Linked DNA regions of Homo sapiens: region 2 is reported to be linked to region 1. Evidence: microRNA targets listed by miRTarBase, many of them from high-throughput screens and not tested one by one. Region 1 holds a microRNA gene; the other region holds the end of a gene's coding sequence.

What was found. Region 1 holds the annotated microRNA hsa-miR-6507-3p (CAAAGUCCUUCCUAUUUUUCCC, at 1,604-1,625, opposite strand). A microRNA usually pairs through its seed, bases 2 to 8, with sites in the 3' UTR of a target mRNA and lowers its output. Matches are read on the target gene's strand: a 7mer-m8 pairs with bases 2 to 8, a 7mer-A1 pairs with bases 2 to 7 and ends in A, and an 8mer does both.
Region 2: miRTarBase lists MAD2L1 as a target of hsa-miR-6507-3p. Seed matches in the 3' UTR shown: 7mer-A1 at 2,177-2,183.

Annotation. Positions count from the first base shown.
Region 1 is chr10:98,922,899-98,926,314 of GRCh38, forward strand. MIR6507 (microRNA 6507) reads right to left here and starts at 1,670; the gene lies at 1,601-1,670. The region is part of intron 3 of HPSE2 (heparanase 2 (inactive)); the gene reads right to left.
Region 2 is chr4:120,057,404-120,060,819 of GRCh38, forward strand. It overlaps MAD2L1 (mitotic arrest deficient 2 like 1), which reads right to left. Exons shown (of 5, transcript NM_002358.4): 5 at 1-2,887. The coding sequence ends at 2,715. Among named protein-coding and RNA genes, the nearest start is that of MAD2L1, 7.7 kb to the right of the region's middle.

The DNA.
Region 1 (3,416 bases):
ATTCTTTCTACTTTAGTCAAGATAAGTTTATACATCACAACTACAAAGTTATACTATTCTGTGTTTTTCTGTGTGCTTACTATGGTAATAATGAGTTTTATATCTTCAGATGATATCTTGTTGCTCAATAACATCATTTTCTTTCAGATTGAAGAACTCTCTCTAGCCTTTCTTATAGGATAGGTATGGTATTGAAATCCCTCAGGTTTTATTTGTCTGAGAATGTCTTTATTTCTCCTTCAGGCTTAAAGGATATTTTCTCAAGATATACTAATCTAAGATAAGAGTTTTATTCTTTCAGCACTTTAAATATCTCATGCCACTCTCTCCTGACCTGTAAGGTTTGCACTGAAAAGTCTGCTGCCAGACCTATTGGAGCTCCACTGTGTGTTGTTTCTTTTCTCTTGCTGCTTTTAGAATCTTTCTTTATCCTTGGCCACTGGGAGTTTGATTATTAAATGCCTTGGGGTAGTCTTCTTTAGGTTAAATCTGCCTGGTGTTCTATAACTTCTTCTACTTGAATGTTGATATCTTTCTCTAGGTTTGGGAAATTCTCTGATACTATCCCTTTGAATAAACTTTCTATCCCTATCTCTTTCTCTACCTCCTCTTTAAAGCCAATAACTCTTAGATTTGTCCTTTTCAGGCTACTTTCTAAATCTTGTAGGCATGCTTCATTCTTTTTTATTCTTTTTCCCTTTTGTCTCCTCTGACTGTGTATTTTCAAATAGCCTGTCTCTAGGCTCACTAATTCTTTCTTCTGCTTGATCAATTCTGCTATTAAGAGACTCTGATAAATTCTTCAGCATGTCAACTACAGTTTTCAATTCTAGAATTTCTGATTGATTCTATTTAATTATTTCAATCTCTTTGTTAAATTTACCTGATAAAATATTGAATTCCTTCTCTGTGTTATCTTAAGTTTCTTTGAGTTTCGTCAAAACAGCTATTTTGAATTCTCTGTCTGAAACGTCATATATATCTATCTCTCTGGGATTGATCCCTGGTACCTCATTTAGTTCATTTGGTGAAGTAATGTTTTCCTGAATGATGTTGGCACTTGTAGAAGTTCTTTGGCATCTGGGCATTAAAGAGTTATGTATTTATTGTGGTCTTCACAGTCTGGGCTTATTTGTGCCTGTCTTTCTTGGGAAGGTTTTCTAGGTATTCAAAGGGACTTGGGCCCCAAGCCCAATAATACGGTGGGTTTTGTACACTCATAGAGGTACTGCTGTGGTGGTTGTGGGTAAGATCCAGAAGAATGCTCTGGATTACCAGGCAGAAACCCTTGTTCTTTTCCCTTACTTTCCCCAAAACACATGGAGTCTCTCTCTCTCTGTGCCGAACCACCTGGAACTGGGGGGTGTAGTGATGCAATCACCCCTGTGGCCACCACCACTGGGACTGTGCTGGGTCAGACCCAAAGCCAGCACAGCAATGGGCCTTGCCCAAGGCCCTTCCCGTCAGGGTAGTGAGTTCTTGTAGGCTCCAGGTGTGTCCAGAGATGCTGTCTGGGAGCCAGAAGTTGGAGTCAAAAACCTTAGAAACTTATGTGATGTTCTATTCTACGGAAGCTAAGTTGAGGGAAAGGAAGTAAAGTGGAGGGAAAAATAGGAAGGACTTTGCATGGTACTGAACCACAATACAAAGTCCCTCCTATTCTTCCCTCCCCTTTCCACAAGATGTAAGACAAAGTACCCTTTAACTTTGATCTCCTCTCCTTAAACGGAAAGAAACAGTCACTTCCATTGCTACAAGCTGCAATCCTGGGTTTGGGGGAGGGATGACTTCTCTTTACTCTCCCATAGCTGTGCCAGCTGGTGTCTCCCTAGGTCATGTTCCACTCCTAGTTCACTGGCTTGAAGCCCAGCCTAGCACTAGGAGTTGCCTAGGAATTGCAGTCTTTGTGTCCTAGACTGTCTTTCAAGTTTACCTAGGACCCCAGAGCACTTTAGCCCTAAGTGGTGAGGTTTGCACAGAAACTCAAGTTTGGACCACTGGGATGGGTGACCCCCCTCTGGCTAGGGCTGGTCCAGATGCTCCCATTGTGCACAGGCAATGGCTGAGCTCAATACAGCTTTATTCTCCACTGTAACAGGGCAGCACTGAGTTCAATGTAAAGTCGCCCAGCAGCTGTGCTCTCCCTCCCCAAAGTGCTCAAGTTCTCTCTCTGCACTGCATGGCCACTGCTAGGGGATGGAGGTGAGGTGGTGTCAGTGATTCTAAAGTATCTCTTCTGCCCTCCTCAATGCCTCTGTCGTTAAATCCAAGTACTGTGAATATGACGTTAAATCCAAGTACTGTGATTGCACACTTGATTGTTGGTTTTTGTGATGGGGCTTTTCTGTGTACAGATAGTTGTTAAGATTTGGTGTTCAAGCCAGAGGGACAAACAGTGAAGGCTTCTATCCCAACCATCTTGCTCCACCTCCCTAGATCTTATTTAAACCTTTTATTTTAATTGGCTTTTTTTTTTTTGACACTGCTCTGGCAGGGTATAAGTGAGGGCACTGCTTTGTTTCTGCCAGGTGGATGTCAAAGTCCAGGTTGCCCATTCAGCCTTCATTCACACCAAAGGGAGGCTCCTCATTATTGCTGAGCAGGTGGGTAAGTTCCACATCTCCAGAGTCTCAACTAATACTGCAGTGAAGTGGGAGGGTGTTCCCTCAATATCAACCAATGGGGATGAAGTGCAGGCTCTCTACTTGGACACCATCCTGGCAAGGATGTTGCAGGAGCACATTAGAGTTTCATGAGGGTAAGTCCAGGCTCCCTACTCAGCCTTTGTTTGTGTGAGAAATAGGACACAAATTTTTTATGACATTTGGCTAGGGTGGAGTGGTTATTGTGTAAAACCTTTCTGTCTTGCTAGATTGGTCCTTTATTGTTCTCCTTGGCTAGAGAAAACTGGCTTTTGTTGGGGTCTTTTGTGTTTGTATTCATTGAGATTTCCAGGTTTCCAGCTTCTTCAGCGCCAAGTTTGGGATATTAAAGACAAGAAGAAAACCCAGGGAACTCACCATCATGTTGTTCCTTGGGTTCTTGGCTGACTTCTTTTCAACCTCTGAGTCTTCTTACATGTTTTTTATATATAATATTTAGAGTTTTTAGTTACCCTTAATAGGAGGAATAGGGGAAAGTATATTTACTCTGTCTTTTTGGCAGTAGAAGTAGGTGTCATTGCCTTTTAAAATACTGAATATACATTCTTTATTATCTATATCCCCCTGGTAGAAAGTGAACCTCAAAAGGGCATGCTTTTTGTATGGCCATAGTAACTTATTGAATGAATTTATAAAGCCACAAATGCGTGCTATTGGAAAATACATCATTTTTAAGTTTTATTTTTTAAATTGGTGCTGAACCAGTGGGAGGAGGTCTGAAGGTCAATAGGAATGAAGGAAAGGTCTACATAA
Region 2 (3,416 bases), not on the chromosome of region 1:
CAGAATGAGAAAGGTGCAGCAAAAGCCAACCAATACATGAGACTGTTATACCTCTGCACAAGCATTCTCACAGAGGTTTGACTTCTCTGATTGATGACACTGGGAAAAGGATCCTGAAAGCCAGATACAGTTCAGTTCCTCCTGGGCTCTACTTCAGACCTTGATGGGCTTAACCTCTGTTCATCCTCTACATATGGTAAGCAACACTGAGCCAGAGTCCAGGCCAGGCCTAGAGGCCTATCATGCTGTCTTAGAACCTTCTCTTTAACATGGTGTAGAAACCACTCACAAGTCTTTCAGCTGTTGATTTAAACATCATCCTCCTGAGGTAAGCCTCAAGGTCTAGAAAGAGGATGGGACAGTCCACTTGGAGCTACAGGGCAAAGCTTTTCCAGTATAGCTTCACCTCAATAAAACTCATAGTTTGGCTCCCACTCAGCTCCAAAATGTGTATTTCTTTTTTATTTATTATTTTTTGAGATGGAGCCTTGCTCTGTCGCCCAGGCTAGAGTACAGTGGCACGGTCTTGGCTCACCGCAACCTCCACCTCATGGGTTCAAGCGATTTCTCCTGCCTCAGCCTCCCAAGTAGCTGAGATGCGCCCGCCACCACGCCCAGCTAATTTTTATATTTTTAGTAGAGACGGGGTTTGACCATCTTGGCCAGGCTGGTCTCAAACTCCTGATCTCGTGATCCACCTGCCTCGGCCTCCCAAAGTGCTGGGATTACAGGCGCGAGCCACTGCGCCCAGCCCAAAATGTGTATTTCTTAATTGATTATATAATCTGTAAGGGGTAAAATGACTCATCATGACTAGCTCTCCAGAAACCTCAGAGTAAATAGTAGCATGCAAATGATACAAAAATCTAAGAATTTAATCCTGTTAATATTGGTAGCTGAGTTGAAATGACCAGAGTATACACACAACCTTTAAAAATGTGATTTCAGCCGGGCGCAGTGGCTCACGCCTGTAATCCCAATGCTTTGTGAGGTCAAGGCGGGCAGATCATGAGGTCAGGAGTTCAAGACTAGCCTGGCCAACATGGTGAAACCCTCTCTCTACTAAAAATATAAAAATTAGCCAGGTGTGGTGGCACGTGCCTGTAATCCCAGCTACTCAGGAGGCTGAGACGGAAGAATGGCTGGAATCCGGGAGGCAGAGGCTGTAGTGAGCTGAGCTGCGTCACTGTACTCCAGCCTGGGCGACAGAATAAGACTCCATCTTGGGGGGGAAAAGTGATTTCGCAGAATTTAGTCTGACTTCTCAAATAGTTAAAATACAAATGAAGCATTTAATTGCCACTTTTCTTGAAATCATCTAGGTTGGTAACACCAGTGGTCCACTTATTCCATAAAGATATGAAGAGTCTACAAATTTGTCACTGAGAACCCAGAAACTGCCACTGATCCACAGTATTTGCTCAATATGTAATTTCTGAATGAACAGATTCAGACTATGTGCAATTACTTAAAAATAGTGAAGGTTAAATAAGTTAATACACATAAAGAACTTAGTGTCTAATAATAAACATTAATAAACTGAATTTTTACAAAATGAGGTCAGATTTAGATTAGAGATTAGAGAAGACTTTACAAATCTGCCTTAAACTGACCTTGGAAAAACAGGTGAGAACTGGATAGAAAGCATGTACCAGATGAGGGTATTAATGAAAGCACAGGAATAAGCATAGTATTTAAGTATATAAGGAAAAGTAGGCTGACAATAAGGCTAAGAGTATAGTAAAGTACTAAAATCAACACTTGTTCAACTGGAATTGTTGGACTAATTCCAAAGGACATTTATCTTTTCACAATGATGAAGTAATAGCCTTAAGTCTATTGCTATGAGATGAACAGGATGTGATCAAAGTTTATCCATTAGATTGAAGACACCTCAAGACTCACTCAACTTTGGACCCTTAAGTTCTATAACTTCGTAGGAACAAGAATTCATTAGCTATGCTGAATCAATTCTAATTACCATTTAACTATATCAACACCAAACCAGTATCAAAATGTTTTAAGACAAATTTAAAACAAACTTAACTTTATTTCCTCACTTTCACTTAAAACTTGATTTTATAAAACACATGAAAAAACATTTTTAAGAGTTCTGTATCACAGAACATTAAACAGTACAAATATCCATTGCTTCATAGGTTCAAGTTACATAAATTAAAGTCAAATAATTGGAAACTGATTCAATAGGGAAAACTATACATGAAATGAAGGTCAAAAGGAGCTATACAGCAATATTTCATTGTTTATAGATTATGAGTTACTTTCAGGACCTTAACAAAGATTCTGAATATTTAGACTTCCTTTGTTGTATTTTATACTTAAATATCTCCCTACCTATACTGAGTCAAACTACTTGACCAAAACATCTGATTTAGGAAAGCATCTAGCTTTATAGCACAAGTTTTTCCATCTACAGTTACTATCTTCAAAGGAATATACATCACAATGTTGACAAAAAAACCTCCTGGTTCCTTTTGAACAATGTGCAATAAATTCATGATGTTAACTCCATGGTAAGTCAAATAGGTACCAAAAAAATAAAAGGAACAATTACACACAGTTCAGTAAGTATCATTTTGGTTTTCTCCATGTAAAAATTAACCAATGAAATAAAACATATCAACTATAGATGACTTGATTTCAGGAAAACCACATTTCAAAATTACAATTACATTATTTTCCTCATGTCATCCTCAGTCATTGACAGGAATTTTGTAGGCCACCATGCTATTTACTTTGTGGATTGTAGTAGTAAATGAACGAAGGCGGACTTCCTCAGAATTGGTAATAAACTGTGGTCCCGACTCTTCCCATTTTTCAGGTACAACCAAATCTTTGTCTGTATAAATCAGCAGATCAAATGAACCTAAATTGGGGATAAGATCATTGAAGTATATTATTTTCTAAAAGTAAAACTAATCTTGCTGCCTCTCTTCTATTTTGAACCACTCACTGCTGGAAAAGGTCATTTGGCTTGGTCTCCAATCACTAGTTAATTTATTTTGCTCAATGAACATTTATTTCAGTAAAGAAAATATTGTATCTAACTTCCGTGCAATTTAGTGATTGTGTTCAAGTAACCCTTATCTTATTTAATAATGGTCCCAAAGCACAAGAATAGTGATGCCAGCATATTGTTATAATTGTTCCAGTTTATTATTAACTCTTACTATGCTTAATTTACATATTAAATTTTATCATAGGTATGTATGCATAAGAAAAAAACATTATATAGGGTTCATACTATCCATGGTTTCAGGTATTCACTGTGGGTCTCCCTGTGGAAAGGGAGACTACGATACATTACTTTTGCATGATAATGTTTTTCCTTCAATTTATATTACATAAATCTGATAAATAAGACAAAATTTAATAAAGGGGTGATTACGGCAGTA